4 separate regions of the Homo sapiens genome follow, and regions 1, 2 and 3 are each linked to region 4. Evidence: fine-mapped expression QTL. A gene starts in region 4. Each other region holds a variant in brackets. All regions are shown on one strand. Distances are from middle to middle. Region 1 overlaps C2orf76 (chromosome 2 open reading frame 76). Region 2 overlaps C2orf76 (chromosome 2 open reading frame 76). Region 3 holds the start of LOC105373581 (a long non-coding RNA gene). Region 4 holds the start of STEAP3 (STEAP3 metalloreductase).

Region 1 (7,984 bases), 76 kb before region 4:
GCGAAGTGCTGTGTGGGCAAAGCACTGTGTAAAGTTCTGTATGTAAATAGCACATCACAGATAAAACCTTGCTCTGTGATTATTAAGAACAGGGTGTCTTTTGCTCATTCTTCATTAGAAGGTTGATTAGAATCACTTGCAAATTATATACATCTACCTCTGGGCATGCTTTGCTTCAAAAAAGGAAACCCCAGGAGCTTTTTCTATAAGGGATAGATTTCCAAATATCTTTGAATATTGAAGTTTTTGAAGCTCTCTTTCTTGATTTTCTTTTTCCCACTGATTCCAAGTGTGGAGGAGTCTTTTACCCATTCTTTTAGATGCCACTTTCTTGTAAAATTTAACTGTACCTTAACTTACTGTTTGCACAGGGTGCATCTTTTTACAGCTCCTCCTTATTGATCTCCAGTTTCTCTGTGCTGTATCCCCCACAGGCTCCTTGTCATGCGAGGTTGCAGTCTGATTTTCATCTACTCAGATTAAATTTAATCTTGAAGATATAGTAGAGGACTGGAATGAGGATCTGTGACTATGGGTGGCTTTATTTTCTTCTTTTGACACTTGTTTATTTTCTGTAATGAGCATGGGTAGCTTATGATTAACAAACATTAAATTGGATATTCTTGAAAACAGCAAAAACATTTTTAATGAAATGGCATGCTAATCTCATTAATTTCATTATTTTGTGATAAAGTCTAATGATGAGATGAGAGTTGTAAACTAAGAGACGAGTGGTAATCCTTGGCACCCTTTCTTATTATGCTATTTATTTGACTTGGAGAGTTTTACTTGTCTGTTTTTAGAGAGTATGTTAATTGAGTGCTCAGTATGCATTACGAATAATCTTGTCTGTTTTCTTGTGGAGATTCTGAAGGCCCTTTTGCTCTTTCTGTAAAAGCCAAGCAGACTGTATTAACTTCTGGTTTAATTTGAAAAATGAATGTGGAACTTGTTGGCACAACACCTTAAAGAATTGCATGTTTAATAACTGGAAGGCTTTCCATCAGATTTGTCTCTAGCCTGAATTAATAATGTTGCTGACTTATTGTTATAGAAGACGCAGTCCTTGACCTGCTAGGTTGAAAGAATTGTGACTGCTCTGAACCTTCATGGGTCCTTTAGCTGTGCCATCTCCCTTGTGAATAATTAGAGGTATTTGAAGGTATTGAGGTAGAAGCCAATTTGTGTCTTTCACTTTGCATATTGTTGAAGCCGCATGAATTAATCATAAGCAGGGCAAAAAATTAACTTCTTCAGACACATATTTTGATGGGTCATGAGGGAGAATGTAAAGTGATCTGTAAAATATTCTACTGATCCTCTAAGTATTAAATTATTATACCTACAGGCTAATTTCAGGGGGGGAAAAGAGTTTTCCCTCCCCTTCCTTCAGTACCTGAGTAGCATATTTGAGAAAAAAATCAAGGTTTTTTATTTCCTAGCACTGTAAAAAAGACTGTAAATGAGCAATTTTATGATTTCCTGAAAACCAGATTCTTGTATTAACTCTTGATTTTAATTTTTGGTTTTTTATTTTTTGTTCTTTTTTACTTTTAAATCATTTGAGGTTTTGATTCTTAAAACTTCACCTGAAACTTCTTGTTGATTTGGTAAAATGCATTGTGCGACCCAACAAATAACTCATCTTTTTCACTTTGGGCATCTGAAGCTATTCTGAAATACCGAATCAAAGTCATATGGATTTCCATACTTGTTTAAAATTTAGATTTACATTAAAATCTTTTTTTCCATTTTCTGTTTTTTTTCAGCCAGTGAAACTGAAATTGCATTCTTCTGTGAAGAAGATTATAAGAACTACAAAGCTAATCCCATTTCATCCTGGTGAAAACATCTCGAGGGCTTCCTTTTTGCATACCTGTATTAAGCTCTTTATTCCACTGCTGAATTTTTGAAATTGACAAACAAATCTTAAAAAATTAATCCCAGGCTATACTCTTTGAGCTAAAATCTGGTTATTTCTTTCTCTTCAGGTCTTTCCTTCTCTCTTTCTTTTTCTTTGTTGTTGTAAAATAATATATTATGAGAAAAACATTTGATCTTTTTAAAGGGAAATAAATTGTTATTAAAAATTATTGTGGAATATTGATTCTTAAATTATAATTTGTTTTCTAAAATTAGGAATTATTTTTGTGACTTGCATGTAGAGCTCCTTAAAAAGATTCTAAGACTAAGATCATACTGTTTATTGTATATTTTTTCTGTAGTTTCTAATTAGAGCAACTGTTTCTGTCTGTGGCTACCAGAAATTCTGAGTTTCTTGACCTTCATGGCTACCTTTTAGTTCAGGGTGTGTGATACATACCACCATATGTGCAATTGAATTGTGTATATTTTAGGGAGGTTTTATGATGTAGGAAGGTTACTTTTTTTTTTTTTTTAAAGTATTGCAGCCTATACAAATAATGTTGCTGATTTTTTTTTTTCTTTTCTTTCTTGAGCTGTGTTTTCCATCTTCAGGAAGAAACTATCATAGAATCAAACTCATTTATTTGGAGAGAGGAAGCGGCAGGATGCTTGCACTTCTGGAAGAAAATTGTTCATTGAGAACAAGTCTATGTCCTGGAAGATACATTCCTTCTAAATAATATAATACTTGTGGTTCCTGATTATGGCTGACCGCCAGCACCTGTGGAGTCCTTATTTCAGAGGCCTTTCAGTCAGGCTGCATTTAATCAGAACTCCTGGAGAGCTTAGCTAGCTCTGCCATTGCTCCCTGAGTCCTGGAGAGCTTAGCCAGCTCTGCCATTGCTCCCTGAGTGCCGGAGAGCTTAGCCAGCTCTGCCATTGCTCCCTGAGTGCCGGAGGGCTTAGCCGGCTCTGCCATTGCTCCTTGAGTCCTCAGAGTTGCCAGGAGGGCAAATTGGTTTCATTATGGTCACGTCTAACTTAAGAAAACCTATGATTTCTTAACAAATCAACTTTGAAACTCTGATTAACATGATTAGAAGATGCCTTGCTTTGTTGAAAAAGTTAATAGGGTCTTCTTTAAGATAAATTCTACTTATTTTATTCATTGTTTCATTCAGGAGCAAAGTGTTGAATACACAGATGATGTAGTTTTGGGGGAGTTAATAAAGAGGAAAATAAGACCCAGTTTTTGCCTCAGTGAATGGAGAAAGACATAGTACAAGCAAATGATTTTAAGAATAGCAGAAAAAGCTGCCATCAGAGCATTGTTGACAGAAATTAGTTGTGTGTGTGTGTGTGTGTGTGTGTGTGTTTTTAAGAAGTACCAGTTGAGCTGTGTCTTAGAAGATTGAATGGGAATTTTTGCTTAGAAGAAAAGAAGGGAAAGGCTTTCTGGAAGAGGGAATAGCATACACAAAGGCAAAGGACTGTGAAAGAGCTTGAGGTTTCAGGAGAAAGCGCAAATTTTAGTGTCCCTGACTTTTATAGATGGTGCAACTTAATGATGTTTCGACCTTATAGTGGTATGAAAGCAGTAGGCATTCAGTAGAAACACTGAGTAC[C/T]CATACAGCCATTATGTTTTCCACTTTCAGTGCAGTATTCAATAAATTACATGAAATATTTAATACTTTACAATAAAATCAGCTTTGTGGTAGATGATTTTGCCCAACTCTAGGCTAATGTAAATGTTCTGAGCATATGTAAGGTAGATTAAGCTAATGCAATGTTTGATAGGTTAGGTGTATTAAATGCATTTTTCACTTAGATAATATTTTCAACCAACAATGAGTTTATTGGGACTAACCCCATTGTAAGTTGAGGAGCATCTATACAGGAGTGTAAAGTACATGGAACAGAGTAGAGGAAGATAAGGCCAGAAAGGTAGGTTGAGGTAGGCCTTACAAGTCATGCTAAGGAGTTAGAACGGTATCTAGTAGGTAGATGGGAGCCAGTAGCATGATTTAAACAGGTATTTGATTCCATTTATATTTTAGAAAGTGAGCTTTGTCAGCAATGTCCAGGTGGCAGAAAGACTAGAAGACATCATTGAGCAGGTGAAGTTTGGAAGGCCTGGCCTAGGGCAGGGGCCGAGGGGAAGAGGAGGATTGGGGAGGTTCTTGGTGTTACCATGTGATCGTGCGTTCCGTGGCAAATATGGTGTGGTAGTTAATTTACATATGTTATCTCATTTGACTTTTACCACAGTTCTTCAATGGTAGCATGTATATTTATAGATGAAGAAATTGGGGCCCAGAGAGGTAAAGTTATTTGCTCAAGAGAATGCAGTCATGTGCAATGGGATTGGAACCAAATCTGTCTTAAAATCCTGACTTCCCCCATTCCATCCTGCAGCCTCCCAGTGGAGACCTGAGGTAGAATGACCTTAGAATGTTTGGGACCTGGTGAATGCCTGGACGGGGATAGTGTGGGGAGGAAGGAATGGAGACTTCAGTGATTCTTGCTGGAGTTGAGTGGCTGGATTAATGATGGCAGCAGTAATCCAAATAGGGAACTCAATAAGTAGAGGTTAAAACATATTCCATTTGTTTGCTTTGCACGCATTCAATTTGCATACCAGGCTTTTTTAAAATATAAAATTAAGCATATCTTTACCTGTGCATTTTTAAGTAGATAATGCAAAAATATGTATGTATAGTACCTTTTTTGGTATGTATTTTTCTTATAAAAGGTACATATAGAGTATTTTCACTTATAAATACAGAAAAAAAATCAAAAATAAATGTATCAACAGCAACCACCAGAAACTAGAAGAGGCAAAGAAGGATTGTTCCCTAGAGCCTGCAGAGGGAGCAGAGCCCTGCTGACACCTGGATTTCAGACTTGTAGCCTCCACAGCTATGAGAAAAGACATTTCTGTTGTGTTTACAATAAATAAAAATGTATTGTGACTAAAAAGGACTTTTACCAGGAATGGAAGATTGATTCAAAATTAGAAAATCTCTCAATATACTTTTCAAAATCTATATAGGAGAAAAAATATTATGTTTATCTCAATAGATGCCAAAAGGCATTTGATGATATTCTTGCTCATGCATATATAAAAATTAGCAAGGGAAAGAAATACCCTTAACTTGATGAAGTTTGCTCATAGAAAACCTACTTAATGGAGAAGTGTTTCAGCAAATCTATTAGATATGAATAAGAGGCTGCGGCTGGGTGCATTGGCTTAGGCCTGTAATCTCAGCCCTTTGGGAGGCTGAGGCGGGAAGATTGCTTGAGCTCAGGAGTTCGAGACCAGCCTGGGCAACAGGATGAAACCCCGTCTCTACAAGAAAAAAAAAAAAATTAGCTGGGTGTGGTAATTTGCCCCTGTAGTTCCAGTTACTTGGGAGGCGGAGGTGGGAGGATCCCTTGGGTCCAGGAGGTCAAGGCTGCAGTGAGCTGTGATTGCACCACTGCACTCCAGCACAAAAAATATGAATTAGACAAGAATGAACACTATTGCCAGTACTATTCAGTATGTTTCTGCAAGTCTTATTGTAGCCAGTAGGAAAAATAGTAAGATTCTCAGATATTGGAAAGGAGTAGGCAAAACATTCATTTGTAGACAATATGATTGCAAGAAGATTAAGTTTTTTTTGAACTAAGAGACTTGAGTGCTGAACCTAAAATGTATTGTTCACAAAAGCTATAAAATAGTGTTATTAGATGAGTATAAAAGACCTGAATAGAGATAGATTACATGTTTATAGATGGAAGATACCTACCTAATCCATAAATAAATGCAGTCTCAATCAAAATCCCAAAGGATTTATCATGGAACTTGACAAATTGATTTTTAAATTCATTTGGAAGAAGAATATGCAAGAATAGCCAAGATCAATTTGGAAAAACAAAACGTAGGCTAGAAGAAAGGGTGGTTGCCTACTAGATGTCAAAATAGATTCAGTGATCAAAACAAGTTGGTAATGATACAGAACTAGATAAAATGATCAATGGAATAGAATATGGAAACTAATAAAATTTACATGGAAACAATAGCTAATAAAGGTAGTATTTGTAATTATGAGGAAAAGGAAGATTATTTAGCACATGGCCAAGTATTTAAAAAAAACAGTTAAGGGTCCTACTTCATACCATTCACTAAAATTTCAGATGGGTTAAATAACTAAACATGAAAAACAAGATGATGAGTTTATTAGAAGAAAAAATGGATTATATTTGTGACCTTGGGGTAGAGAAGGCCTTCTGAAAACACAAAAGGCGTATGCCATAATTTCATAAGGAGAATGTATTTGTGTTAAGAATGACTAAAAGCAAGCCAGGTGTGGTGATGCATGCCTATAGTTTCAGCTACTCAGGAGGCTGAGGGGGGCGGATTGCTTGAGCCTAGGAGTTTGACACCAGCCTGGGCAACATAGTGAGACCCTGTCTCATAAAAAATGAATTAGTAAAAACAAAACCAAAACATGTATAGAAATCAAAAGAAGCAGAAAAAATCCATCAGGCAATTGCCATGAACATTTTGACATATTTCCATCTAGGTTATTTTTTCTATGTCTATTTTTTAGAGTTTCTGAGCTTTTTCATGTGTTTTAAGTCACATTTGCTTGTTAAAACAACCAATTCTGGTCCAGGCATGGTGGCTCACACCTGTAATCCCAGCACTTTGGGAGGCCGAGGCCAGTGATCATTTGAGCTCACGAGTTTGAGTCCAGCCTGGGCAACATGGTGAAACCACATCTCTACAAAAATTAGCTGGGCATGGTAGTGCATGCCTGTAGCCCCAGCTACTGAGGAGGCTGAGGAGGGAGGATGGCTTGAACCTGGGAGGCAGAGGTTACAGTGAGCTGAGATCACACCACTGCACTCCAGCCTGGGCTATAGAGCCAGACCTTGTCTCAAAACAACAACAACAAAATTCTGAAGATTAAAAAAAAGTAAAAATCCTCTTCTTGCAAGGTCACTCCTTTGCATAGCTTGGTGAGCATACTTTCAGACCTTTTTTTCTTTTTTTGCACATATGTTATTTAAACATATAGGTATGCATTTTAAAGCATTGTCATGTTATGCATTTCAAAGCATGATCACTCTCTTAAAGATGGTTGAGAAGTCTCATTTTTTAAAAAATCACCATTGTGTGTCAGACACTGTATGTATTTTATATTATCTCATTTAATCCACACAGTAGACTGTGCTAGAGCTCTGAGGAGTCCTGGTTTCCCCATCTGTGAGATGGAGGAGATAATAAGGGCCACTTTGCAGAGTTTTGTGATCAAGTGGGACATTGCCTACAAGGCACTTACGGACAGAGCCTAGCAGGAAGTGAGCACTTATTACATGTCTTCGGGTACTTATTGTGAGAGTGAGTGCAGCAGCAGCAACTTCATTTTGGAGCAAGGAACCCTCACCCTCAGAGATTAAGCCACTTGTCCAAGGCCTAAGATCTGATAAGTCAAAGAGCAGGTCTCTTCTGGCTTCAAATCCTACTTTCTGCCACTCTTTGAAAACAAAGGGAGTTGGGCACTAGGAGAAACATGGTAGAAAGGTGGTCAACCACAGCCAAGAGACAGTTCCCCATCTGCATTGTTGGCGCCCCTTTACAGGCATTTTTCTATTCTCCTTTGAAGAGAACTTGCCTTTGCCAAAGGAACACTTGGGCCCTGGTCCCACGAGTTGGGCCAGGTTTCATGTGACTTTGAGGAACTTCTTTGCCGTAGCAAACGGGTTTTCTTTTCCTTCTTTTTCTGCCTGCCCCAGACACAGGCAGGAGAGATGGTGAAGTTCCTGCCTATTTGGACACCCAGAGAACTGGCCTGGCCTGAGCCCCTTTGGAAACCTTCTGCTGATTGCTGGGGACAAGGGGGAAGAGCAGGGGCTTCCCCATTTCTGCTAATGCATATTGGGGCATCGTGGGCCTGAGTGTCCAAGGATCTGTACTTGGGACCCCTCTGCCCACTAGAGAAGTTGTCCAGCAATCTTGTCATCTTTTTCTCACTGTACGTGTACACATGCATACATGTATGCATGCATGTGTGTTGGGAGAAGGGCTCTGATTATTGGTTCTGGGCAGTTTCACCTCATTTTGCTTTCA
Region 2 (7,984 bases), 97 kb before region 4:
GTAGAGACAGGGTCTCGCTATGTTGTCCAGGCTGGTCTTGAACTCCCGGACTTAAGCGATCCTCCTGCCTTGAACTCCCAAAGTGCTGGGATTCCAGGTGTGAGCCCCTGCACTCGGCCACCAATTTCTTAGAAAGCTAAACATATACCTATTGTATGATCCAGCCATTCCACTTCTAGGTGGAATGACAGTATGTGCCTGTGAGAATGAAAGTAATTTCCTCCATGTGAATGTTCCCAGCTTTATTTGTAATAGCGCAAGATTAAAAATGACCTTTAGCATAAAGAACATGTTTGTTTTTTTCCAGTTCCTTTGCAGGCATCTTTATATGTATTTTGGTTAAAGCTCTTATCTCACTGGAGTGTGTCTAATGTCTAATCTGTCTTTCTGCCACTGTGGAAGGTAACTGCTTTAGTTCCCACCCTTCTCAGTGCTGCAGGAGGGGAGTCGAGAGGGCAGGGTTCTGGTCCCAGCTCTTGACACCTTGGGCTGACCAGGCACTTCTTGAGACCTCAGTGTTCTCCACTGGCAACTGTAGGCATTAAATTATATGTATTCTTTCATGAATATTTTGAGCACATGCTGTGTACCAGGCACTATTTTAGGTTCTGACAACACAATGAAGAAAACAGGCTGTGGTCCCTGCCCTCATGGAAGCAGTTTGTGATAATTTGTTATGGGCCGGACATGGTCCTAGGTTTTGAGAGGACAGCCCACGTTTTCATCCCGAGGAATTTATAAATTCATAGGAAATAGTGACAAAAATAAGTTAAAAGACAAAACTATAATTGTAAAACCTGTTATGAAGGAAACAATATCAGAGAAGACCCCCGCTTTAGAAGGGTTGTCAGAGGAGATGGCACTTCAGTTAAGATGTAAAGGCAGGAAGAGAATAGGTGCTCGCTGTGTCCTGGTCGTTGTCTCTTCTCTCAGAAGTCTGGATTGAACATAAGACTGATTTGATTTCTTCAGTCGTAGACATCTCTAAATGATAATAGCTTCATGGGGCCATCTGTTCTTCACCTCACGGCTTTCTTCAGGGAGTTTCATTGTCTAATTCAGGAAATATAAATGTCAATACATTAAATGGAATTAATTCTCCTTTCTGATGTTGAATGAATACTGCTTTGGCCCATAATTCACAAATAATGGAGACACAAGAAGAATAAAATGAAGTACATATGCTCTGGTAAGCCTAAGCCAGAGGTTTCAAATTGGTATCTGGCAGGCAAATCCTGCCTCCAGAGAGGTTTCTTTTGGCCTATAGTGTTTTAAAAGTCAAGAAATTTCACCTAAAACCCTAGACTTGTAGCATTGCCATTTAAATCTTTAGGTGTGGCCACTCCAGGCTCATGTTCCTACAGCACTGTGATCAGTCAGCACTGACTGGCAGAGCCCCCTTTGATGGGCGCATGCTCTCAGATCTCACTGCCCCTCCTTGTTTGACCTGCTTCACTTACCTGTTGTCACCTGTCTGGCCTCTGGGTGAATTTGAGTACGAATCATCTCAGGGTTTTTTTTGTTTTGTTTTGTTTTGTTTTGTGTTTAAATATCTCTGCCTGGGACCAGCCTACCGTGAGTCAGATCCACTCGTGCCAGGCTGGGTGATCCTGACGTGCAGCCGGGGTGAGGACCACACTCCTAGGACCATAGCACTGGCTGGAAACGTACTTTTGTTACAGCATTCACCACTGGAGCACACGCTGTCATGAGTGGGCAGCTCCTCTTTTACTCTGTTCCTGGAATACCTGGTAGTAGGTGCTTTAAATGCTTGTAACATAAATTAATCAATTATATTTTAATTTGATACGTATTTGATCTTGAAAAAGCATTTTAAAAAAACCCACATTTCCTGACCAGGTGTAGTGGCTCATGCCTGTAATCCCAGCACTTTCGGGGCGAGGTGAGAGGATTGCTTGAGCCCAGGAATTTTAGATCAGCCTGGGCAACCTAGTGAAACCTGTCTATTAAAAAAAAAAAAAATGCCGGGACTATGGGCATGGTGCTGAGCGCCTGTAGTCCCAGCTACTTGGGAGGCTGAGGTGGGAGGATCGCTTGGGCCCAGGAGGTCAAGGCTACTGTGAGTATAATCACATCCCTGCACTCTAGCCTGGGCAACAGAGCAAGACCCTGTCTCAAAAACCTTCACATTTCCTAATTTAGATACGTGGATATTTTTTGTTTGTTTTACTTTTCTTTAGTAGGTAACACATTCATGTGGTTTTAAGATCAAAATGTGGAAAGGAATATAGTGAAAAGTCTCCTTTACCCTTCTGGTCTCTGTCTGACCAGTGCAGCACCCCCCTGCCCTCCCCACCCCCCACTCAGCAAGTACAAGCAAATCCCACCATAAATTCTCATTTTACCCCCTTTTTACTCAAAAGGTAGCTTCCTAAAAATAATGTTCTCTCATATCTCTTTAGCCTTGATGTAACTTGAAGATCTTATCATGTTAGTAGAGAGCTTCCTTCTTTTTCTTTTAACAGTTGAAAAGTATTTTTCATTGTTTGGGCATATTATGATTTACTTAACGAGTACCTAATTGAAGGACATTTGGACTTTTCCTAACATTTGCTGCTGTGAGCAATGCTGCAGTTAATACCCTTCTATGAATGTCATTTTACACACACTCGTGTGTAGTATAGTTCTATGATAATAAATTTCCGGCTGGGCATAGTAGCTCATGCCTGTAATCCCAGCACTTTGGGAGGCCAAGGTGGGCAGATTGCTTAAGTTCAGGAGTTTGAGACCAGCCTGGGCAACATGACAAAACCCCATCTCCACAAAAAAATACAAAAAATTGCTGGGTGCGGTGGCATGCACCTGTAATCCCAGCTACTTGGGGGGTTGATGCAGGGGGATCACTTGAGTCTGGGAGGTCGAGGCTGCAGTGAGCCATGTTTGTTCCACTACACTCCAGTCTGGGCAGCAAAATGAGACCCTGTGTCAATCAGTTAATCAATAAATTCGTTCATTCACTCATTGATTCTGAAGTGGAATGGCTAGGTCAAGGAGTATGTGCATATGTAATTTTGAGATATATATATATATACACATATATACACACATTTCTCTGTTAGGTGTTGTACCAGCAGATATTAATTAAAATTAGTACTGGCATTTGGAATATGTTTTTAAAAGAATATTTACTGTGTTTTGTTGTCTTTGAGGAGTTAGAGGAGTTATTTTGTTGGTTATATGAATTTTGGTGGAGTAATAAGATTGTTCTAGATCATTGGTTTCCACTAATGGCCAAAGACCCATAAGGGGCTCTCAGATTCATATGCTAAACAAACATCAGCTATATATATATATATATGTCTCACACAAGTGTATTAGTATATATTTTAACTATACATAGATACTGTTGTCTAATGAAATTAAACATTCTTTTAATAGTGTTACTGAAGTCTTAGTTCAGATAGTAACAACTCAACATCTTGTCAATAGCTCTAATATTTTAGATGGTGATATGCTTTGGCCGTATCCCTACCCAAATCTCATCTTGCATTGTAGCTCCCATAATCCCCACCTGTCAGGGGAGGGACCTGGTGGGAGAGAATTGAATCATGGGGGTGGGTTTTTCCCATGCTGTTCTTACGGTAGTGAATAAGTGTCGTGAGATCTGATGGTTTTATAAAGGGCAGTTCCCATGCACAGACCCTCTTGCCTGGCGCCATGTTAGATGTGCCTTTGCTCCTCTTTCACCTGCCATGATTGTGAGGCCTCCCCAGTCCATTAAACATTTTTTTTAATAGATTACCTAGTCTTGGGTATTTCTTTATAGTGGTATGAGAATGGACTAATATAGATGGCCCTTGGATTTC[G/T]GTGATGTATTTATTCTGTGTTCTGTCAGGTTTTTCAAGGTAACTTAGTCTGTAGATAGAAAAGAATAGAACCAAAAGACTGTGCATATTCTATGAGTGTCTATTTGCTTATTGTGTAAAAAAATAATCTTTCTCTTGTAGATATCCCTTTAAGGACCAACCTGCCACCACCATTCAGAAATTATAAATATGGTAACCATTTTTTTATTCTTTTAAAATATATATAAATACAATTTTGCATTAGTTTGTTACAAACTTAAATTTTGTTTTCAAAAATGACTATCTGTAAATAAAAACCAATTTGGAAGTTTATTTAGAAATACAGGAATGCTAGTATATTGCTGAAATGAATTGTAATAGTAAGGAAGTGGCGTATTTGCAAAGAGTAGCATGTTTGCCAAAACTGTGTTTAAAACGAGTTTCTCTGCCAGGTAATTAGAAAAGGAAAAATGATTGAAGACTAAGAATTAAAAGAAGGGATTTAACATTTTAAATGCCAATAATTTGAGCATGTTATATAGTAGTTTTATGTGTTACAATTGATGATTTAAAAATGGAGTAATAAGGTAAGAAGCTAGATGTTGTCATTCATTATTTGTTATAAAGATGGCACAGTTATTAACCTTCAGCAGAGTGACACTCACCAAACTTTGAATTTGAGACTTCATTTGAAAGGTATGATGCACCTAATAAATATTTCTCTTAATTGGTGCAGACATTTTAAAGTATAAATTTTTTATTACCTTAGATTTTTTTTTGGAGTGGCTTTTCATTCTGTTCTCATTTGATAGAACAACTTATGACCTAAAATCCTTTGAAATCACAATCTTCGCCGTGTGTATGCATTTTAATATCCAGAAACTAATTGTGAGGTTATAAGGGGTAGTGAAGCAGAAGTTGAAGGCACTGAGTGGAAAGTACTTTGATTTATTGGGCTTAAAGAATTTACATACTCAATATTGAATAAGATAAAGGAATAAAAAGGATGATTAAGGTAAATATGAAACTTCTCAATTGTGGCTTTCAAGGCTTTCAAAGTATAATGTCTTGAAATATAGCCTTAAACTTGAATCAACTTACAGATGCCATTTTAAATTAGAATAGTTACATATGGTTTCCTTTTTTCATGGTGTGTGTGTATGTGTGTATCTATATGTCTATGTGCAAAGCTGTGTTCCATGTAAGTTCTTTTGAAAGAAATTTTAGATAATGAAAGCGTTAGAATATCCAAGTTGCTAAGCATTATTGTGGTAGATAATGTACCTTTTAGACTATTCTATCTTATTAACTTCCTTCTGCCCTAGTATTTCTATACTATTCAGATGAATTGGCAGAAAAAATGAATACATTTATTTGTGAAGAAATTATAGAACCACTCGAGTTTTGATAGACTTCAAGTGGCTTTGTCTGAACTTGGCTGTTTAACAATCTTCTGCTTTCTGTTGAACAAGAAAGGCTGCAGTGTTATTTTCACCTGTCATTGTCATCCGGGACTGCCACCTCACGGTCTGCGGGACAGGGCACTTTGTTAGGTATTCGGGAGTGGAAAGAGTGTGGAGTCAGATTTCAGTTTTGCCAGTCACTGTCTCCCTACCCTTTGGCAAAGGGCTGATTCTCTCTGCCACCAAGAGCCTGAGATATCTCAGAGCCCTCCTCCCATTTAATTGGCATCCACATCTATTATTGATTTACCACGCATGCTACTTATCTTAAATCCCTATCGCCTAGACATGACCCATGAGGGCACACAAGAATGTAGTTGTTGTACAGTGTGGGCTGCTCATCCCTCTCTGTTTCATAAAGCTGTGTGTGATGCTCCACAAATACAAGATGATATTTTTATGAGGTTGCTTTCCTCAAGGAATTTGTATTAAGAAAACAATGCCCACAGGTATTGTTTGTGATAATTATGAGGATTATTTGAAAGAAGCAAGAACAAGGGAAGCAGCTTATTCAACACAGAAAGGGACAGTAATACATCTCTCTGCTGGTTTGTCATTTCTCCTTTCTTACCCACTCCTCAGGTCACACCCCTTTCTGTTGGAGAGAAAAATCTGGCAAAAACTTCTCTTCAAAACATTTCTTTTTCTGCTAAAATATGTAGCCGTTTAATTGTGTGTTTGCCAAACCTATTAGAGCAGCAGGATTTCTAGTTTAAAGGCTCATTAGCAAAATATATAGAACAGGATTAATATTTAGTAAGGTCAGACTATAGTTTTGCAGGTTGATTGCAACAGACTTTGAGCTCCTGTTATTTTAAAAATACTATTGGCTTCTCTCACTTGTCTCAAATAATAAACATATCTATAGTAAGAAAAAGGACATGATAGGTAATTTGGAATACTAGATAAGCTGAAAGTCAACTTTGTTTATTTTCTTACACACATTTTAAGCTTATTTTTAGCAATTATGGTTTATTTACATCCCTAATATGCATATTTTACTTAGGTTAGATTTATTTTTATTTCTTAGGAATACAGAGTTACTGAGGATTATGTTGACCTTGTATAAAAAATTACAAGGCCAGATGCAGTGGATCATGCCTGTAATCCCAGCACTTTGGAAGCTGAGGAGGGCAGATCACCTGAGGTCAGGAGTTCGAGACCTAGCCAACATGGTGAAACCCTGTCTTTACTAAAAATGCAAAAATTAGCTAGGTGTGGTGGTGGGAGCCTGTAATCCCAGCTGCTCGGGAGGCTGAGGCAGGCGAATTGCTTGAACTTGGGAGGTGGAGCTTGTAGTGAGCTGAGATCATGCTGCTGTACTGCAGCCAAGGCGACAGAGCAAGACTCCGTCTCAAAAAAAAAAAAAAATTGCAATAGATAACTGAAAGTTGACTATTTAAAATAATGGGCAAATTCAGAGTGCTAGTTCTTATCTAGATAGCCACCTTATTGTGTATTATGAGAACATAGTTAAATAAGGTCTGTTTTAAAAATAGATCCTTTCATTTCCTGTCACTGTTGGAATTCCTTGTTACAACGTGATTGATAGGAATGAGTTTTAGTTTAAGTTTGGGAGTTTATTCAATAATACACTGTAATCATAATGCATTCATTAAATGTTTAAATAAAAACGAGTGAAGAATCGGAAACTTTCTGAATTTCAACCTGTTGAATGGCTGTGTAGATTATGTAATTAAGGGCTGATTGTTGCTGAGTTCGAATTTTACCCAAGTGTGGAGAAATTACTTACTGGAAGTGCACAGTGTAGCCTGACTTCAAGATAAACAAATTAAGGAGTGAAGTTGGGTTTGAATAGAGCAGATGAAATGGTGTGAGCCTGTGCAGTATTTGCAAACCAAGAGACAGATAGTGATATTCCTGGGGCATTAGCAGCCTTGCTCAGATTCCCGGTGGTCCTAGATACAGTGTTTGAATACTGAGAGTGGCAACACCTGTATCATCATTTGCTCTCTTGTCATTATATCTCATCTGAATAGATTTTTTTGAACTGCATTTGCTAATGTCTATTTTAAGACTTTTTTTTTTACATTATTTGCTAATCCTGTTCTGTATTGACTCCAAAAAAACAAGGTACAGTAATCTGATTTGCTTGTCTTCCATTCTAAGAAAAAATGTGCTGAGTTGACAAAAAGTTCTGACACACACACTGCTGTGTGTCAAAGACCAAGGCTTTAAAAGATAAAGATCTTTTACTTCAGTTTTAATGATCTACAGAAGTAATTTTTCTTTTGCTGTATAGTATATTTCTAAATGAGTCTGGTTATAAAACAAGGACTTACATTTCTCAATTTCGTAGCCACCCTCCACCCATTTTAATAATTTGAAAAGAAGTTTAGAATAAACTGTGTAAAAAGATAACTTGCTTTTTTCTTTCAGATGCACTAAAGATTATTCATCAAGCACATAAATCAAAGGTATGTTCCACAGGTACAGTATCTGGCACATAGCAAGTAATCAATGTTGGTTGAATTTGTGAATAAGTGAATGAATACATGTACATCTAAAATATTTCCCATTATAATAGCGCTTTTTATTTTGTAGGTACCCTTTTTACTGCCTTAGCTTTTTCATTGAAGAAAAATAAGCTATTTCCCTGTTAGTAGTAGGTCCTTTTTAAAAAAGTGTTAATTAAAAAAAGTATACCATATTTTGTTTATCAAGCACATATTTAACATAAAATAAGCATAAAAC
Region 3 (7,186 bases), 44 kb before region 4:
AAGCCAGGAGTTTGAGACAAGCCTGGGCAACATAGCAAGATCTCATCTCTAAAAAATAAGTATTAAAAATTAGCTGAGCACACTGGTGTGTGCCTGTAGTCCCAACTACTCAGGAGGCTGAGGCAGGAGGATTGCTTAAGCCCAGGAGTTTGAGGCTGCAATGAGCTGTGATCGTTGTGTCACTGTACTCCAGCCTGGTGACAAAGTGAGACCCTGTCTCTAAAATATAAATATATATATATGATATATATGTGTGTGTACACATATATGTATACATACATACATATATATGTATGTATACATATATATGATATGTATGTATACATATATATACACACATATATATAGCATTTTGTTCTTGATTTCTAACTTTCTTGCACTCACTTGAGAGAATGCCGATACTTATTATTTGAAATTTATTGAAATTTGCTTTATGGTATAATATGTTTTCAATTTGTTTTCTTGAGAAAAATATAATTTTTCTATTTCGTATTATATCCAACTTGTGTTGTTATACACACATACATGTGCACACATGCATATAATTGTCTGTTTGTTATAATCTCTTAGTATAATGAGGGATTTGTTCACATTTCTTTCTTTTTTTTTTTTTGCTTTACATATTTTGAGGCTATATTATTAAAAGCACATTATTCTAAAATATTTAAATCTTTATTTTATTATTATGTAGTAATTCTCTGTATTCCTAATAATGTCTTTTCTCATAAAATATGCTTTATATGATAATAATCTAGCCACTCCAATGTTAATTTAGTTTGATTTTGCCTAACTTACTTTTTTCCATGTCTTTACCTTGAGTCTTTAGGTATGCCACTTATAAATATAACTAAAATCCAATCTGACCATCTCTATCTTTCAACTGAAGTGTTTAATCCATTTGTATTTATTGTGATTATTGCAGGAGGACAAGTCCTTGAATGACCTTGGCTGATTCAGCTCTCCCTGCTCCTTCTTACAATTCTTGGGCAGAATGTACTGAGAATGTAACATCCTGGGATAAGGAAGAACCATCTAGAACAGCCTGGGCTTTGTCTTTGTTCCTCTCAGAACAAGGTGCTCTGCAATGCTTAAGCTCAGTGATTTAAGTACCTGTAGGGTATAAAATCCAGAGTGGACTGCTTTCAGGGTCCCTCAGCTGTAGTGTGAAGTTGGGCATATGCAGATGGGATTCCGTCTGCCCTGGGCAGCTTGCTTGAGTTCTGGGGGACCAGCTCCCCACGGATTCTATGCTTCTATCTTTGCTACATATCTGTGAGTAATAAGTCGGCTTTGCCTGACTTGTGCAGGTGTTTTGTCATACCAGACTCAGACTCCGGCAGCTGGGTTTGTGCAAAACCTTTAGAAGCTGTGTTTGTGTAAAGACTCCTGCCAGACCTGGGCATCCACCAGATACAGGAATCTTTACAAAAATTGGCAAAGTGTTTAGAGTCCTCTCCTGGTATCCAACATATGGTGTGCCCCTCATAAGGATTGATACCAGTGCATGGTATTCTGTTTCACAATTATGAATATATGTGGATTTTTTCTAATACCTACTTTTTGTTTTCTGTGTCTTGCTTTACCTATGCTATTTTTCTTGTTTCTTGTTTTTCAAAAATCCAATTAAAATTTTTTTCCCTTCCTAAGGATTTTGGCATTATACTTTTAGCTTTTTATGGTTACCCTTGACATTTTTCTAGATGTACTTAACAAGATCTAAATTAGCCCATAACTTTCCCAACCCCAACCTCTAAACAAATATGAGCCTCAGAACATTTTAACTCAATCCCTTATTTACATATCATTGTTTTTAGCCAGTTAGTATGTCTTTTTTTTTTTTTTGAGATGGAGTTTCACTCTTGTTTCCCAGGCCAAAGTGCAATGGCACTATCTCGGCTCACCACAACCTCCGCCTCCCAGGTTGAAGCAATTCTCCTGCCTCAGCCTCTTGAGTAGCTGGGATTATAGGCATGTGCCACCACGCCCAGCTAATTTTGTATTTTTAGTAGAGGTGGGGTTTCTCCATGCTGGTCAGGCTGGTCTCCAACTCCCGACCTCAGGTGACCCACCTGTCTTGGCCTCCCAAAGTGTTGGGATTACAGGCGTGAGCCACCGTGCCCAGCCTAGTATGTCCTTTAAAAAAAAACACTTACATAGATATTCTTCTTCTATAGAGAAAAGGTTTGCTTAGATTTACCTTGAGGGTCACCACTTATTCACTCACTGTTTCTTCTTGTTTTCAGATTCCCCTCTGGGATCATTTTCTTTCTATCTGAAGTATATTTTTAGAAGTTCTTCAGAAAAGAACTGTTGGTAAGCTCTCAATTTCTGTAATCTGAAACATTCTTATTTTGCACTCAATCTTGAAAGTCAGTTTTGCTTGATTTAAAATTCTAAGTTGGCAATCACTTCCCCCTGAACTTTTAAGATATTAGACTACTATTTTCTAATCTCCATTGATATTGTTAAGAAGTCTGTTGTAATTCCACAATTGTAGGTCATTTATAATTTTTCTCGACTGCTTTTAAGAGCTGCTTAGTGTGGCTAACTGTAGCTTTACTTTTAAATTTGCTTTCCTGCCTGATGGTATACATTGCACTTTCAGCATTTTTGGATACCAGTAATTCACTAGTTTTAGAAAATTCTTGGTCTTTATCTCTTTAAAATTTGCCTCTTCACCATTCTTTCCTTTTGGAACTCCAGCTATTTGTATGTTATAGTTGTTCATTTTAACCTTTATCTCTGTTAATGACTTTTTTATATTTTCTATCCATTTGTCTCTCTTTTGCATTCTGGGTAATTTTTTTAGCTTTTAAAATTCACGATTTTCTCCAATCTGCTGTTAAACTCACCAAATTAAGTTTGTTTCTGACAATTTTTTATTTCTGAAAATTCCATTTTTCATCATGCCTGTGCCTTTATAGTATATTATTGCTTATTTATTTTTTGCAACTCTATTTTTTAATTCTTTAGATACTTAATATATCATTATCGTATGTTTGACGATTCTGTTCTTCGAAGTCCTTCAGGTTTTGTTTCTACTGAGTCTCACCTATGGTTTATTAATTGTAAATATTAAGCTTCTTATTTGGTTGATCTGAACTGAGGTTGCTTTTCTTCAGAAAGGACTTGCATTTGCTTCTGCCAGGAGCCAAGGAGAGCTTTTTTTTGTTTGTTTGTTTTTGATTTTTGTGTGTGTTCCCATTTATTTTCTGTCCTGATGATTTCCCTTACTTCCTGCAAATTCAGTATTGCCTTAAAAAGTATGTCTTTTGTTTAGGAACTAATTGTGTTTTAAGCAGGAAGACCCTTCAGGAAGTTAAAAGCCCACATGAATTCTTTAGTTGCAGAAGTTTTAAATGTTGGCTAAAATTAGATTTTTAAGAATAGACTCTTCATATATGAGAATTATAGATATAAGTTAGGTTTCTGGTCCAATAAATGCAATCAACCCTCAATAAGCAAGAGTGTTGATTATTCACTTTATGGGAGGATTGGCAATGGAAGTTTTTGGTTGCCTAGTGCATCAAAGTTCCATTTGTGACTGTTCATTTCTGAATAGAGAAAACAAAAATGAAGCCAAGGCATTTCTGAGTGACTATTAGAGATGACACTGAACTAAGACAAACTACCTAGAATTATTAAAGAAACTGGTGAGGGAAAATGGAATTTAACTAAACAAAAATCTACTTTGCACACTTCCCAGGAAACACAATTTGGTATATTTCACTCTGGATAAAAAATGGTTATAATCAAATTTTGTTTTTGTTTTTTAAACCCTATCAGTTTTTCTGGTCTGCTCCCTTTACATTTTCTCCAACAATTATTTTCAGCCATTTTGTCCCTCTTCAGCCCTCAGAGCCAAACCTTCCTCCTCCCCTGTTCTCAGCAGAAGGGATTGACTGTTTTTTTAAAAAGAACAGACAACATCAGAAGGGAACTGTCACATGCTGTGTCATCACAACTAGCCCCTCCCCTCAATACTCAGCCACTTCTTTTCCCCTTCTCTCCTAGTTGTAAAGGACAATCTCCTCCTCTAAAGCCACCTGTACTCTGCACTCCATCTCTTCCCATGTCCTCCAGGACTTTGTGATTCTCTATCATTCTCTCTCTCATCTTCCATCATTCCTTTTCACCTTGTTTATTCCCCAGAAGCATTTAAAACATGTTTAGGTCAGAACCATGGAAAAAAATAACCAGCCCTCCTTCAACCCCCACATACCCCTCCCATTACCCATCCTTTCTCTTTCCCTTGCTTTACAGCCAAATCTCAGAAGAGTTGTCCAGTATTACTGTCTCCATTTCCTTCTTATTCATACTCAATCTGGATTTTACCCTCAACATCCTACTGAAATTCTCACCATTAGGTTTCCATGTTTCCAAATCTAGTTGACATTTATTGGTCTTCACCCTATGTGATTTCTTCATAGCATTCAACACAATTTCAAACACTCACAG[T/C]GGACACAGTACACACACACACACACACACACACACACACACGCACTTTTATCTTAAAATGTCAGCTACAAATGAGCCAACAATGTTTAGTTGAATATACTGTATTTAAAAACCAATTTATTTATTGTAAGGCTATTAATATAATAATTATTCATTATTAATGTTATATATGTATTAGTGTAAATTATTTCTACTTTATGTTTCAATTTAGACCTTACACTGATTTTAAAAATTATATGCATAGGTAGGTTATATTATTTCTGAATTTCATTTCAGAAATTAGTAAAGAGATTTTCAGAAGACTTGTTAGAAGAAGTCAGTGATTGTGGATGGGACTGAGAATTTCTGCTTTAGTGGAGCCAACTCTCTCTTGGTTGAGACCAGGGAAGTGGCCCAGCACAAGAGAGCTTCTGCACTCCAAGAGCTAGCTTCATTGCTTTTGGAAAAGATTCAACGTGTCAAACAGCTAAATGATAACTTTCTCTCCTGAACTGATATGCGTGATTTTGGTGGTTCCTTAGTTCTTACATGGGCTACCTTGGTAGGGGGTATTTTTCATCTATTTGATTACTTCTTTGTAAAGTTAACTCTCTCAGCTTTATGCATGGGAGGACACAGAGGAGAAAAGTAAACCTCCAAGGACAAGATGCTTTTCACCTTGAAAATTGTTTGTCATGAATGTATTTACTGGCCATGGTTCTTTCTTTGGAAAATCCTTATAATGAACTCAAAATGGCAGGGCTGTATTTTGGTTATTGTTCCCAAGAAATGGTTTTTAGCCACTAGACCACTTTCTGCACTGGGTTTCTTGCCCCCTTGCCCTGTACCATAAGGCAGTCTGGTTGCTTCAGCAGGAAGGCTCGGCTGCATGGTAGTTGGGTGGTCTCTGAAGAGAGCTCCTTTTGTTTTCCTGATGGACCCAGGGCCAATGTGCCGCAGCCCTCGTGAAGCACAAAGTGCAAGGCTGTGGCTCCAAGATGGAGTGTTTCTCCCTCTGCCTTTAAGAGAACACGGGGGTCATAGATAGCATTGTACAGACGTGTACCTTGCCAGGGCTGCCAGGGGAATGCAGGCTCATGGGGAGGATTGAGGGGACAGAGATGTGTGTGTACAGATTAGTGTGCCATAGACTAAGCACAGCAGAGGCAAAGAATGCCATCTAAGCTCTTGTCGCTCGGAGTGTCCGAGGATCATCACCATACAGGTCACCCAGGAGCTTATTAGAAATGCACAGTCTCATGCCTCACCCCAGACCACAAATCAGAACCCGCATTCGAACCACATTCCTAGGTGACTCCCAGGCACATTATAATTCAAGAAGCTCTGCTGCTTTTACCTGCACCGAGGCCTCAGCCTTCAGACCACTCCAGGAAGCCACCTTTTCACATCCCCACACCCCCACCCGACACTCTGTCACCTGGATCTTGCCCATTTCCTCCCTGGCATGTCCCTTAGTCCCTTAGGTCTGCACATCTGCCCTTCCTCATTGGCCAGCTCTAGCACAGATCACTGTGTTCACCTTGGCAGTCCCAAGTCCTTGCACACTGCCTGCCTGAGAGCAGGCTCCAAGCTGAAGGCTTCTCGAGTCAGTGGACGAATGGATACGTGATCTACATGGCAGAAATAAAAGCCTGAAGTTTGCAGAAGGTTAGGTGTTTATTTGCACTGCTTTTATACTGTCTACCAGGTTAAAAAAAAAAAACAGAGACTCTTTTGAAGGCATAGATTTTAGATATCAACCTCAGACTGTGGCATTTGGGATTTCCAGAGCATGTCGTTGAGGCACTTTTGTACCCAGAGGCACATGGAATTTACCAGGCTGTGGAGATGATGTGCTCTCGGGATGCTGCTGCCAGTAGCCTGGTGAGGTAGGGAAGACAGCAGTGGACGCACAGTCAGGGCCCAGTACACAGCCCGCCTGCCTTTCGTGTGATTGTCCAGCAGGTGGCACCTGTTCCCTCCTGCCACCCACCTTATAATTGCTTCCCTCTTGAGCACCTTCAGCCAGAGGTGGGTGGGAAGGGGAGGACGTGCACTGGGTTCTGCTATGTGCCAGCATCTTTGGTATAAGGAGCCATTCCCTGGCCCAGGGCAGGCAGCCAGTACCCACCGGGGTTGGGGATCATTGGTGGGTCTCCATTGCCCATGCTCTCCCTGCCTCTCATTAGTAGGGAATCGATGGGCCCTTGTTATGCCAAGGCAATGCTAAAATCTCTGCTTTACCTGCCCCCTTCTCAGCAAGGCTCTCTGTGGGCCACAGCTGATGCTCCATCAGTGCCAATTTATGAGACAAGTTTCTGCCGCTCAGCCTTGGCACAGCAGATGGAAAATACCTGCAGGAAGAGCTTCCCCGGCATGGCCTTCCCTGCATCGGTCATGTGCCTAATGAGCTATCCTTGCAGTGGGCTCTTCTCCTGCTTTTCACTGAAGAACCCTTATGTGCTGCATAGACATGAGCTCATGAAACCTCCCTGGCGGGGGGGGGGCAGGGGCAGCCTCATCTGTGACATTCTCTCTGGGCAGCCTTCACTGGCCCTACTCTCTTCCTTCCATCAGAAGATGGCTTTGGGCCCAGGAGACTCATGAAGACCTCACCCTCTTTGTCTTCAAAGATGCTTTTTCTGTGGCAGATCAACCTGGTTCTGCAGAGGGTTGGGGGCTCAGCCGAGAACACCTGTTTCTTCACAGGGGAAGTAAGCTAGAGTCAGTAGGGAGCAGCAAGGATGGC
Region 4 (7,984 bases):
GCAGGCCTGGGCAGTCACCCAGAAAGCCCCCCTGGATGCCAGCAAGCCCACTGTGGCAATGGGCAGGCCAGACCTCACCTGGAGGGCCCAGCTCACAGCCACTGTATCCTCTAGCTGTGCACCCAGAGTTCACCTTCAGAGAGACACTTGCCCTGACTGGGGGTATACTGTTACTCTCTCAAGCCCACCAGGAAAATCACGCACCACTCCCCACAGCCTACTGGCCACCCCACCAGTCGGATGCTTATAGAAATGGGAAGCAGCCGGCTGTGGTGACTCACACCTGTAATCCCAGCACTTTGGGAGGCCGAGGCAGGTGGATCACCTGAGGTCAGGAGTTCAAAACCAGCCTGGCCAACATGGCAAAACCCCATCTCTACTAATAATACAAAAATTAGCTGGGTGTGGTGGAGCACACCTGTAATCCCAGCTGCTCAGGAGGCTGAAGCAGGAGAATTGCTTGAAATCGGGAGGCAGAGGTTGCAGTGAGCCAAGATGGCACCACTGCACTCCAACCTAGGTGACAGAGCGAGATTCTGTCTCCAAAAAATAAATAAATAAATAAATAAATAAATAAATACAAGAAATGGGAAGCTTGTTCCCTCACAGACCCCAGCATGCTGGCTTTGGGAGCCCTGCTGTCTACACATGAACCAAGACAGCTGACACCACAAAATAAAGCTTAGTGGGCCCATTCACCGACCCCAAATCTCTTTATATGTACCGAAGTCGGCTTTATAATCTTGGGGCAGTATTTTTTTAACGTGTTTAATAACAAGGCTTAAACATGTGATCTTTGCTGAACTCCCACCTGGCTCTCATTAAGCAGAAGGCAGAGATGGAGTAAGTCACAGCCTGATTGCGGAACAATCAGTGCTCACTTGTTGCCCACGCTGCCCGGTAACTGTGGGCATGCAGAAGACAGACTGACTGGGAAGAGTTGAGTATCGAACAATTCTCCGGTGACAGTGTTCTTACGGTGCTGAAGCAATGAACGCCTGGCCCATTCAGTGCAGGGCTCACGAGACCAGGCCACACCTGAAGAGGAACACACTCTGCCCCTGGGTTGAAGTGACAACGCAAGAGTTTGTGATCCACAAGCAGTCGCCCATCAGCCCTGATGGCAGGCACAGTGGTTGATCCCTCCAGCTCAGTGGGTGAGGGGAGCGGGTGTCTTTGGTTTTGCATCCTTGCTCACTCACATGAGCTATAGGTCCTGAGCCTTACTGCCACCGTGTCTCCTCACTCAGATTCGCAAGTACGCAGAGGGCACGGGTGTTTGTGGGGTGGTTGATGACAACAACACTCATCCTGCCAGAAGTGGGACTCAGCTGGTCTTAGAGTGCCTGGCTCAAAGTTAGTGCTCGGTAAGTGTTTGTTGAATGAATAACCGATGAGGCAGAATTTGGACAGGAGAATGTGGCAGTTAGTTAGTGGCTAGGAGTCTCAGGTTAGGGGTGGAAAAAAAGAGGTTGGGGTCCATATGGAGTTGGAAAGTCACATGGTTGGGAGAATAACATTATCGACCTCCTAAGAGTCTCCAGGTACAAATGAGCTCCTGTAGATAAAGTGTTTGGCCCGGATGCTGGCACATGGGAGGCTGAATGTCAGTGATGAGGACTGGCATTTCAGGCAGGATGGTGAGGGTGTGTGGCATGCCAAGGATGTGACGGTTGGAGCACAAAGAGGCCCGGGACCTGTGGGAGGCTGTGTTGGACAGGTGGGTGGACCCAGCTGCAGGAGACAGATGGGAGGAAGAGGGACTTCTGTAGCCCAATGTTTGAAAACCATCTAGTCTCCAACCCCGATCCCTGCCCCTCTCCTCTCCAAGTTCTGTAATCTCCACAGCCTCTCAAATTGGGATGGTTTGGCAGGGGTGGGGTAGGAGCAGAAAAAAGCACACACCCTTCCAACTCCTAGAGGGAGGAAAGGCACCAACTTGGCCTTAGGTTTTAATAACTACTTAAACTGGTAAACATCCTCATTTTAAATCAAGAGGCAACTCCCTGGTCTAGATGCTAGAAAGCAGTTTCATAGTGCTCAACCTGCTCAGCTCAGGAAGACCTGGCCACTACGCACCGTGGGTGGACAGGAAAGAGTGGATCCAGCCTCAGCTGGAAGACCAGAGAGCCCGACTCCCCAAATGACCTGCTTCCTTCCCTTGCCCCAGCCTGCCTGAATCTCACCCCAGCCCTCTCAGTTGTTCATTTGTAGCTGGACAGGGAATGTAGCAGGCAGCGTAGACCGCCAGGCTGGGAGGCATCAGCTGAGACTGAGCTGGGAACCCTGGGACTTGGAGCCAAGGCCAGCTCTGCCACAGAGCACGGAACCTGGAGGCCACTCTCTAGGCCTCAGTTGCCTTCTCTAGGAAAGCTAGTGGTTCGGTCTACAAGAGCACTAGGCCTGGAAGGCCCCTCACTGGTTAACTCGCAAACCTGAGGTGAAGAAGGAGGGATCCGATATTTACTGCACTCCTAAAACTCAGCACTTCACACACTTAGTCCCCCAAATAGGCATACTTGTTTTATGAGGATATCCTGTTTGAAGCCCTTGGCAAGGTTTTGCAAATAAACAGAGGTTCAGAGAGCTGAGGGCTTCATGTTACGGGGTAAGGAGCTGAGATTTGGACTCGTCCATCTGACTCCAAAGCCAGACTATCCCCAGCACTCAGCCAGCGACCTTTTGCCCACTCAGCTCTCAGGTGTGCGCCTTTGGACTTCACTCAAGAACTTTCACTTTTTAACCACCTGAAGCCCTGCCCAGCACCTTGGTCTCTGATAAGTCCAAGAAGGGAAGGGCTGTGGGCCAAGGATAGGAGATATGAATGGGAGAGGAATCTACCTGTTTGACATCTCTAGGCTGGAGAGGGAACATGTGTGATCCCAGCTTGACCTGGCCTGGTCCTGGGGACCTCAGCAAACCTGGGGCAGGCTGTTCAACCCCCAGGTGGACAAGTGGCCCAGCCTGAGCTCCCTGCTGGCTCTGAGGCCAGCATTAGACTGTGTCACTTCCATACCTGCTGCCGGATTGCCTGGCTGAGGCCACCTGCTCCATTTAAGCCCCCTTCAGGACACTAGTGACACCATCTACCCCACCCCGCCCACTTACCCATTAGACATTCACTAAGCACCTGCTCCTTGCCAGCCCCTCTGCAGGCCACCAGGGACAGAGATGAGTAAGACATAGTCTGGGTCCTCCAGGTGCCCCTAGCTGATTCAGTCAGCTTCGGATGGGACTTGGGGATCTATATTTTTAACAAGCCTTGCAGGTGACTGAGAGGACACACCCAGGTGAGACCCTTTGGTTTTGTGGACCTTCTGGCTCTCAGCACTGTATTCTTGGGGCTGCCAGAATCCCCGTGAGGACACAGCCTGTTTCGCCCCAGTGGTAGGTTCCTCTGGGCTCCAAGTCAGATAACTCTGGGTTCAAATTCTACTTCTGCAACTTCCTAGCTGTGTATCCTTGCAAAATACGTGGACTCTCTGAGGCTGTTTCCCCATTTTTAACAAGAGATAATGGTGCCTTCCTGTTGTGAGGATTAACTGGGATATTGTGCTCAAAGCCCTTAGCAAGATGCCTGGCACACATAAATGGGAATATCTGCTGTTAATTATATTATGGCTGCACTCTGATGGACAGAAATACCTCCCTGGGGGCATTTCCAGAATCCCCACTTCTGGAGCCCATCTCTGAGGTGGCCCTGGATATTTGGGAGGCCTCTCTGTGCCCTCTGCCAGGGCTCCAGCGGGACCTTCCTGCTTCTCCCCACGGATCCGGCTTTCTGGTCCCCAAACCGCATATTATCTGGGCACACCCTCCCCTTCATTTACCCAGAGTGACCAAAGTTCCAACCACACCTCTCCGGGCAGCCTGTCCCCAAATTTCGGGGAAGTGGGCAGGAGGGGGAGCTTTGCCGGGCAGGAGGGGGAACTTTGCCAGGCAAGGGCTCCGCGGGCAGAGGCGGGCACTGGTGAGGCCAGCCTCCTCCTGGGGACCAAGGTCGGGCGCCCCTGCCCAGCCCCTGCACCTGCCCCTGTCCCTGCCCTGTTCGGCTGCGAAGGGACTGGGAGGTCTGGCGAGGAAGAGCCTGGAAGATCCCCGCCCACAGCTACCAGCCCTCCTTTGGGACCGCTGGCCAGAGCCCCAGCCGTGGGGCACACGGGACCTGTGGACTCAGCCGGGGTCATCCGGAGGGGCGCCCACATCTGCACCCGGGGCTCCGGAGCCTGCTCCCCGCCACTGTCGCCGCCGGCCCTGCCTAACCTGCGCGGCGCAAGCGGCTTCCACGCCTAGGGAAGGAAGGCACACGGGGTGGGGGCCCCGGAACCCGGTTTCTCTGCCGCCGGGCGCACGTGGCTCGGTCCCAGGGGACAGAAGTCGCCTCCAGACGTGTGGCGGCACCCGAGGTCCGCGCAGCGACGGCGCAGGGTGCAACCGGGCGGGCGTCTCGGGGACCGGGCGCAGCACGCAGCCCCGCGGAGACCGGGGGAGGGTACACTCACCTCTGCGGCCCGCCGCTCGGAGCGACCGCGGCAGCTGAAGGTCCGCGGCGAAGGCGGTGGCTCGGCCCGAGGCTCCTCCTCCCCCGCGCCCCACCCGCCCGGGAGGGCCGGACCTGCAGGGGAGGTGGCCGCCCTCCAGCCCGCCGCAGCTTATCCGGCTCGGCCACCTCCCCCGGGGCCGCAATCAGGAGCCGCCGGGTCCTCGCTCCCCGCCCAGCCCTGCACAGCCCCGGCAGCGGTGGCAGCGTCCAACCACCCTCCTCCCCTGGCCCCAGGCGGGAGGTCGCCAGCCGGCGCCAACACTTCCTGATTTGCAGTGCCCGGCACACGGCTGAAGTGAGCAGAACTCCGGGACCTCCTCTTAACCCGGCCACGGAGGGCACCGAGGCCAGGGTGACCTCTAGGCCCCCCTCTCTTAACCTGAGGAGCACCTCGAATCCTTGTCCATTTTATAACCGAGGCCAAGTGGCAGCCACGGTTGCAGGTGGGAAGAGACCAGGGCTCCAGATTGGGTCCGGATCCCTTCCCTCTCAACAAGGTTGCGCCCAGGCCTTTGTGGTCCCCCCCCAATCTCTGTCCCTTGTCCACCCTTAGGGCAGACTTTTGACCCTTCCCAGCAGTCCTCAGGTTCCAAGACCGGTGGGATGGCGGGTACCTTTCTCCCGGAGCTGCCTCCCTGTCTAGGCCTTCTGGGCTCTGAAACCCTACCCGTCCCCCCTTCCCCCTGGGGCACTGCCCGCTGCCCTCCGCACTTCCAATGCCGATGGCTTCACAGCACTGCAGCGAAGCAGGGCGTAAGTAAGGGGAGGCTGTCTGTGGGCACCTCTCTAGAGGTGTGCGCCCTGGTCCGAAGCCCCTTCTCACCTGTGGTCACATTTGCCGGCTGCAGTTATTTTCTTTACAGGTGAGGAGACCCGGGCTTTTCCGCTCAGATTCGTGGAGGCTGAGTGGGGGTTCCTGACCCCTGGTACTCTTTCTAGAGTATTCCTGGGAGACATACACTATTAGCCTCTGATAAGGAGCTTCAGGTTATTTTTAGGAAGTCTAAGAATCCTGTTTTCTGGGGAGCCAGCCTCTGTTGGGGAGATAAGCCTCCGGAGGCCAGAGGCAGGAGCTGGGCCTCAAGGAAGGCCCCACAACTGGACCCCAAAGGGCACGGTGGGGAGGAAGAGGCAGAGCTCTGGTCTCCCTGTGGAGGGAGTGCTGCTGTAAAGCGCCTTTCCCTCCACCCCCAACTCCCGCCGAGAACCCCCCCACCCCCGCAGGCAGTTTGCTTTCCCCCTCCACAGCTTTCCTCCTACCCGAATACCCACCTCCCAGCTCTCTGCTCAGCCAGGGCCCAAGGCCAGAGCCTCTCTTCTCTTGCAAGAACTTTCCTGTCCCACCTTGCCCCAGGGCAACACCTCTTATGGCAATTCTTACAGGTCCTTTATCCATTCAACACTCACAGTGCCCCAGGTGCCAGACAGTGCTCCCAGTGCTGGAGACACACGTGCCCAATGGAGGTTCCTGCCCTTAGGGTGCCAGGGCTGGTGAGTGGCCCCTGCAGTGGGTTGTAAACTTTGAGAAGACAAGACCCAGTTCCTAGCCCCCTCTGGTGCCCCTAATATGCTCCCCCTGCAGTAGCTGTTCTTTTGATGCCTGCTCCTGCTGATGGGGATGGCTGAATAGCCTTCCTTTAATGCCCAAGGACAGCACAAGGAAACCGAGCTTGGGAAATGCAAACACTGAGAGGTCTTCCAGCATCTTTGGAAGAATCCCTGGGAACCAGTGTCTTTTTGTGGGGCTCTCCATGCATGAGTAAGAGAGAGGAAGACTTTTTTTTGAGGCGGGGAAGCGGGGCTCTCCATGAGTAAGAGAGACAGGGGGAGACATTTTGAAGGCTGGGCTGCCAGAGGTCTATAGAGGATTATCTTAAAAGGAACATGAACTCCTGCTGGAAAAAGTAGAGGGGTCTGAAATTTCTCACAGACAGGGAGGGAGGTGAATACCCTACTTGGGCCCACACACTTTGGCAGAGAGGCCACCGCCCACGCCGTTGACCTTTGGTGCTTGTTCTGTCCACTGACCGTTGGACTAAGGGGGCCTTGAGTGTGAGCTTGTCTCACCTGGCATGGGGTCAGGTGTTTCCAGAAGCTTGAGAGCCAAATTTCCCAAAGCAGACGAGCCCTTTCCTACTCCAGGGAGGAGTGCAATGTGCTGAGCTTTGTTGAGCACCTTCTATGGGCCAGACTCTGGTGTCCTCTGCCAAGGATAGAACAGTCAGAGCCATCCTTGCAAGATGTTTGCCAGATCGCATTTCTCCTCTGCTCAAAACTCTACCCCCTCCCCCAGCAAAAGTAAAGTCCTTGCAATAGCCGTGGCCCAGTGTGATTGGCCTTCTCTCTGCCCTCATCCTCTGTCTCCCTCTCTCTGCTCACATTCAGTCCCACCTCAGATGAATCTGACAGGATCCTGACCCCTGCCGTTCCCCTTGCCTGGACCCTAGGCATCCCCAGGTACCCTCCCTACCTCCTCCAAGTCTTGGCTGAAAGGTCATCATTTCTGTGAGGCCCACGCTGATCGCCCCCATTCCTCATCCATGTACCTGCTTGCTTTCTTTTTTTCCCCATAGCCTGTATTACCTCTGAACACACTATAAAATAGAGTTTTTTGGACTGTTTTTCAGTAACTGTCTTCTCCCATAGAAATGTGAGCTCCTCCTGGGCAGGGATTTTTATGTTTTATTCAATTCCGTATCTCTAATGGATAGAGCACTGCCTGGCTCATAGTAGGTGCTCAGTAAATACCTGTTGCATGAATGCACACCCGTCCTCACACTTCCTTGCCTCTTTTAGCATCTCAGAAATGTCCCCACAGCTCCTGCCTACTCTGCTCTCCTTTTTATGCCCCCAGCTGGTGTGATGCTGATTCAGAGGGGTGCTCCACTTATGCACTTAGGGATGTCTGCCCCTGGAGTTGCTGAATATTCAATTTACAGAGCCCCTGGGATTGCCCTTTTTCCTTGAAGACAAGGTTAGCTGTTTGGCTAAGAAGAGAATAGCATCCAGGAGAAAATCTAGATTTATTTCTTATTTGATCAGGAAGGAGAGGGATGTTGCTCACCCTCAGCTTCTTGGATTAATCCAGCATTTATAGGATGGGACAGAGCAGGTCCACTTCACAAAATAAATCCTCCATGAAAACGAGATGGCCACGGGAAGCTGTATGCCCCAATGTACTCTGACACCCTAGCCAGAAGCCAGGCCACTTGGATCTGGTCCTGCCCAGTGGGCCGTGGCTGCAGGAAAGGTGCCGCTCCCCACTGATGCTCTCCCCACTAGACCAGGTGCTGCAGGACTCCTCCAAGTTCTGGAGCACAGGAAGCTCTTTCCTATGTAAGGCTGCATTCAGGGCAAATGGAGGCATTGTCTTTGCCATCACAATGACCTGATGGGTGGAGGCACATCAGCAGCAGTCAGAGCTGAGGCAGGGCAGGTAGT

What was found.
Region 1: its variant is fine-mapped to the expression of STEAP3 in whole blood (TOPMed, PIP 0.95).
Region 2: its variant is fine-mapped to the expression of STEAP3 in whole blood (TOPMed, PIP 0.97).
Region 3: its variant is fine-mapped to the expression of STEAP3 in whole blood (TOPMed, PIP above 0.99).

The regions. Positions count from the first base shown.
Region 1 is chr2:119,296,334-119,304,317 of GRCh38, reverse strand. It overlaps C2orf76 (chromosome 2 open reading frame 76), which reads left to right. Exons shown (of 6, transcript NM_001322331.2): 6 at 1,770-2,093. The coding sequence ends at 1,846. Among named protein-coding and RNA genes, the nearest start is that of STEAP3-AS1, 51 kb to the right of the region's middle. The variant C/T (reference allele first, on the strand shown) is at 3,492.
Region 2 is chr2:119,317,189-119,325,172 of GRCh38, reverse strand. It overlaps C2orf76 (chromosome 2 open reading frame 76), which reads left to right. Exons shown (of 6, transcript NM_001322331.2): 3 at 3,969-4,019; 4 at 7,670-7,707. Among named protein-coding and RNA genes, the nearest start is that of C2orf76, 46 kb to the left of the region's middle. The variant G/T (reference allele first, on the strand shown) is at 3,828.
Region 3 is chr2:119,264,562-119,271,747 of GRCh38, reverse strand. STEAP3 (STEAP3 metalloreductase) reads right to left here. Exons shown (of 6, transcript NM_182915.3): 6 at 6,096-7,186. LOC105373581 (a long non-coding RNA gene) reads left to right here and starts at 742. Exons shown (of 2, transcript XR_001739666.3): 1 at 742-1,074; 2 at 2,244-6,123. RefSeq lists a silencer at 6,325-6,424. The variant T/C (reference allele first, on the strand shown) is at 4,459.
Region 4 is chr2:119,220,407-119,228,390 of GRCh38, reverse strand. It overlaps STEAP3 (STEAP3 metalloreductase), which reads right to left and starts at 4,557. Exons shown (of 6, transcript NM_182915.3): 1 at 4,503-4,557. RefSeq lists silencers at 3,905-3,974, 4,035-4,814.